Linked DNA regions of Homo sapiens: region 2 is linked to region 1. A link means that fine-mapping ties the variant in region 1 to the expression of a gene that starts in the linked region. Tissue or cell type: whole blood. Region 1 holds a variant in brackets; the other region holds the start of a gene. All regions are shown on one strand. Distances are between the middles of the regions.

The links. PIP is the estimated chance that this variant, and not a neighbour inherited with it, causes the effect.
Region 2: STX12 starts here. The variant in region 1 is fine-mapped to the expression of STX12 in whole blood (INTERVAL, PIP above 0.99).

The regions. Positions count from the first base shown.
Region 1 is chr1:27,820,965-27,823,650 of GRCh38, reverse strand. STX12 (syntaxin 12) reads right to left here. Exons shown (of 9, transcript NM_177424.3): 9 at 1-1,420. The coding sequence ends at 1,322. Among named protein-coding and RNA genes, the nearest start is that of PPP1R8, 8.5 kb to the left of the region's middle. The variant T/C (reference allele first, on the strand shown) is at 1,038.
Region 2 is chr1:27,771,894-27,774,579 of GRCh38, reverse strand. STX12 (syntaxin 12) reads right to left here and starts at 1,361. Exons shown (of 9, transcript NM_177424.3): 1 at 1,155-1,361. The coding sequence starts at 1,272. RefSeq lists enhancers at 524-1,024, 1,222-1,371, 1,025-1,525, 1,492-1,641 and a silencer at 902-1,111.

The sequences.
Region 1 (2,686 bases):
ACAGAAGGAGAACAGAAGAAATGAATATAAATATACTCAGGGTAGCCAAATCCTCTAATTCACTAAAGGATGAACCAAAGTTGTTGGCCAGATTCACATTTATGTGGGAGCCTAAACAAATTATGTTCCCTTTAACTGTTCTAGGCCTGTGGAAAAGGGAAGTGGACAACATTTATATTACAAGACAGTAATTTTATTGAAACATCTTTTTTTGTCTAAAACTATGCATGGAGATATTAATCTCTTGTTTATAAATTAGGTTAAGTCTAACATCACTATTTGAAACCAGTGTTATTTACAAAAATGAACCTCTTCTTTGCTTTATTGTTGGTTTACAGGAATAATTTTAAACCAACCTCAATCTATCTTTAAAAATCTTCCTGCCTTCAAATGCCCAGCAACCCTTATAAGGTAGGGGGCAGCCCTTTGACAGCAACATTCATCATTCACCAGGAATGTAGAACCACAAGTGAACAACAACAACAACAACAACAAGATTAAATCATTCCCAACAATTCCTATTTGCTTTTCCAAAGCATGCTATGTCTAATTCTGCCTTTCTATGCAGACAGGTGGGAGAGGGAGCCCATAGAGTATATTAATGTTAATTAAATTAACTTCCTTTAAAAGCTAACAGGATGGCTTAGTGTGGATGAGGATGAACTGCTGTGGATGACACTAGCAGATAATGAAGTAAACTTTAAACCCAGATTAGTAACATGTACTCCAGTAACTGACCAGCTCAGATAGAGACTTCTCATTTACTCTGGATCACATGTACAATATTTTACCTTCCAATTAAATATAGTGCCAAAATCTTTCAAAATAGATAGAGAATAGGCTTCTTAGAAATTCAAATAAAAATGTTAAATAATAAAAACTGGTGGCCTATTATAGAGTTTCTGACAGACTCCAATATACTGGGTACCAGAAAGTAACTCTATCTCAGATGCTAGTAAAAAGGTAAATTTTGTATATACATAAAAGACAATATTACGAGACTGTAGTGTCATTTGTCAAAACAAGAATATCTAGAA[T/C]GGAATTTTCAGTAAACACTTGGGATGAAGGGCAATCAGAATACAAGAGGAAGCAAAATCCACATAAGTTAATTCCTAATTTGAGAAATCAATAGAATCAATAAATTGATAATTACTGTCTCCATAGGTCACGAATTCCAAAGACTAGTTAGTAGTTAGTTTCTAACTAAATGATTACAGGACGTTCTGATATATGCTGTCTTCTTGTGATCAGTTTGTTCTGGCAAGACTTCAACAAGCACTTGCCCTTGAAAACAGCTCAGCGGGAGAACGATCGGAGGCAATCACTTCGTTTTATAAACTAGCCAGATAATAAGTCCCAAGATTAGAATAATCACTGACAGGACAAGCACCAGGATACACATCTTCTTGCGAGATTTTTTCTGAGGAAAGAAATATGTAAACAAGATACTCATGAAACAAGTAAAATTTGTATGTGTAAGACTCTAAGAATGCTTCATAAATCTGCCTCCTTGTAATTAAAGATTAACTCTATCCATGCAAAATTATGCACAGACTTTCCCAGAAATCTTAAGTCAGCAGCACTAGGTAGTAGTGCAAGTGTTTTTTGTTTGTTTGGTGTTTTTTTTTTTCTTGAGACAGAGTCTCACTCCGTCACCCAGGCTGGAGTGCCGTGGTGCGATCTTGGCTAACTGAAACCTCCACCTTCCAGGTTCAAGTGATTCTAATGTCTCAGCCTCCTGAGCAGCTGGAATTACAGGCGTGTGCCACTATGCCCAGCTAGTTTTTGTATTTTTAGTAGAGACGGGGTTTCACCAGTGTTGGCCAGGCTGATCTCGAACTCCTGACCTCAAGTGATCTACCTGCCTCGGCTTCCCAAAGGGCTGGGATTACAGGCGTGGGCCACCGCACCCAGCCGAGTAGTATAGGTTTCAAAGTTTTAATTCCAAGTCCCCACATACAATTTTGCAAAGGAACTATACCTGTGCTGCCAGGCATTATTTGCAATAAAATAAGTTATTTGTGCATGTGTATTTTAATAACATTTTATAATACGTATAAAACTGTTATGTTCATTGTAAAAAAAAAAATACAGCAAGCGGAGGGAGAAAAAAAAATCACCCATAGATAATACCGTCAACATTTTTGTATTTCTTTCTGATTTGTTATCTATGTATATTATTTGACATAACTGGATCACATTGTATGATGTTTGATGTTTTTCCTCACTTAATGTTTAGTATAAACATTTTTCTGTTTAAACTCTTCAGAAACATCTCTTAATTCCCATATGCAACAATGAGTGGATGTATATAATTTACTTAATTATTCCTTTACTGTTGGACACTAAATTAATCACCTAGTTTTTAAAGGAAACACTATTATTAAATACGAATTTCTTTACGAGCACTCCCAGGTAAAATACAGCTATCCCAGGAACACGGAAAACAACTGAAATGCTATTTCTTCTTTTTTTTTTTTTTAATTATACGTTAAGTTTTAGGGTACATGTGCACAATGTGCAGGTTAGTTACATATGTATACATGTGCCATGCTGGTGTGCTGCACCCACTAACTCGTCATCTAGCATTAGGTATATCTCCCAATGCTATCCCTCCCCCCACCCCACAACAGTCCCCAGAGTGTGATGTTCCCCTTCCTGTGTCCATGTGTTCTCATTGTTCAAT
Region 2 (2,686 bases), 49 kb after region 1:
TGAGACCAGCCTGGCCAACATAGCAAGACTTCATCTCTACAAAAAAGAAAAATTTTTAAAAGTTTAAAAACGAAAGCAAAGTGACACTCTTTAAAATATAGAATATAATTGTAATTCAGGACTAACTAGTTCTACCTATTAACAGAGTACGCCAAGCTCACAAAACAATAATAAACAACAAGGATGATGACCACCATTCTTTCCAAGTAAAGCTGCTGCTGATCTCCTGTTTATAAGGCTCCAAGATGATTTTCAAGCACAAGAAACACCCTGTATTTGACTCATTCAGCTACAGTTTCACTCAGACCCTAATGGGGAGGAGGGAGTTTTAAGACAAGCAATAGCATTCTGAATTCCACCAACAACTCTACCATGCCTTACTTGCTATGTGGTTGTGGCTAAGTGTCTTAGCTTCCCTGTGTACCAGATTTGTTCAAGAGCAGCTAAGTAGGGAAGGAAAACAAAAGCCTCATCTGCCTGAAATCCAAAAATACACCCCAATTATTTGTTACAAAAGACAAAATAATGTAAATTGAAATGCTGTTGGTGAATTCTCTTTATTAAAATGAAGTCATCCCACCTTTCAAATACCAGTCATTGTGTCTGATTTCCGAATTCATTACAGGAAGAACTGTGTATGAAGTCACCCAAACACATGCACTCTCCACTTCCCTTAATTGAAAGTTGCTGATTTCCGAGGAGCCAGGGGCTGAGCAGAATGTAAACCTAAAGGCTAAATCAGTAAACAACCCCATCCAAACTGGTCTAAGAGGAAAGCGAGGTGGGTGGGGAGGAAGGTGGGTGACAGGAGAAACTCGGCTGACCACTGCGCCAAGTCAACGCACTCACAGCTCTCGAGGTGACACACACTCCCCTTCCCACCCTCGGGCTGTCAAGTCGGCTGTTTTGGTCCCAGCACCGTGGGGGCAGAACTCCAGAGAAGCAGCTCAAGCTTCAGCTGGGGCCGGGGACCCTCGGGCAACCCGGGCCTGACAGATTGGGGGATGGCAGCCCACCGCCCCCAGGGTGGACAGCCCGAGACAGCCCCAGGTGTGGCCTCGGCCGTAGCCCCAGCCGGGCCCTGCGTCCCGGCAGCCTCACCCAGGCCTGTCCCCGGGACAGCTCCCGCCCCCCAGCTCGGTACCCCGGCTCACTGGCTTGGCTGATCCGCTGGATGTTGCCGCTGCACGTCTGGATGATGCTGCTGAAGTCCCGGAGCTGGGGCCCCGAGGGCCCCGGGTTCCGGTACATGTCTAAGGGACCGTATGACATGACGAGGAGCTGAGACCTGCTCGCTCTACACCGCTCTCCTACCGGAAGCAGCCGCCAGCCGGGACCCGCAGGCTGACGGAGAAACTGGGAAGAGCAAGGGCGGGGAAGGAGCTAAGGCTGCGTGCGCACTAGCCCCGCCCTCACGCGGCGCGCACGCGTCCTCCCCGCCCCGGTCCAAAGTGCGCAGGCGCCGCTGGGACTGGAGCTGGGACTGGAGCTGGGACTGTAGCTTAGAGACAGGACTCCCCGAGGCTTGGGGATGCAGGGCGGGGAGATGACGTCACCTAGTTGGGGCTGAGATTGGATGAGCTTGGGTGGAGGTGTTGTTTCTCGCCAGGGCACAGTGACAAGAGGCAAGAATTTTCGATTTGCATAAAACTGTACCAGATGATCTCAGCCCTTACATCCTATTCTGTTCTGAGAATTCAGGCCCAAATATGGGAGAATTCAACGTTGAAACTCAGACCCGGAACCAAATCGTAACCCGAAATTCCTCTCTACTTCCATCCCCAGGGCTTTGGTAGTGTTTGGGGTTTCCAAACCACTTTCATTTCTCCCTCCACCCCTCTTCTAATCTAAACAATAAAATAATGTTTATTGAGCACATACTATGTGAATCCTCACCGCAATTCACTTGTTCATAAGATTTTTCACAGCAGGGGACGATGCTCTATCTATATTTTTATCATTAGAATAGATAACGGAGAGTCGGTTTTTTAAATGTTGAAGTAAAGTAATTCATCAAAGTAAGCATTATTATTTTCCCTCTTACCGATGAGAAAATTAAGACCAGCGAGGTTAGTTCGCCTTGCTGAAATTTGACTGCAAAACCCAAACGCTAAGCTGACTCTCTCCTCACCTCGCTACTTCTCTAAAATTCATTCTCGTCTAAATCTCTCCCAAATAGCTCGTTCATCTATATCCCAAGCCGGGATATCTTGGAGAACTAGATTCCTAAAATTTAAAAATCGTTCCCTTAAGTAATTTGGAATGCATGACCTCAATGTTCCCACAGAAAACTGCATTTTTGTAAGCCTATGTTAAAAGGAAAGACATAGGATTTTGGTTTGGGAGGAGATCAAGATAGTGAGAAGTGAAGGGGAACTGGCTGCGTTTCCTGTGTTCTACACCCCACCCCACCCCACCCCAGCCTGCTTTGTAGTCTTTGGAAAATGCAAAGACAGAAAGCTGCTTGCCTGGATGAAAGGAGACCCAAAGTGAATGAGCCTGTATATGGCCTTAGGATTTTTTCTTTATTTTATTTTTTTTGAGACAGGGTCCCGCTCTGTCACGCAGGTTGGAGTGCAGTGGCGCGATCTCTGCTCACTGCATCCTCCTTCTCCTGGGCTCAGGAGGTCCTACCACCTAACCTCTGAGTAGCTAGGATTACAGGCGTGCGCCACCACGCCCAGCT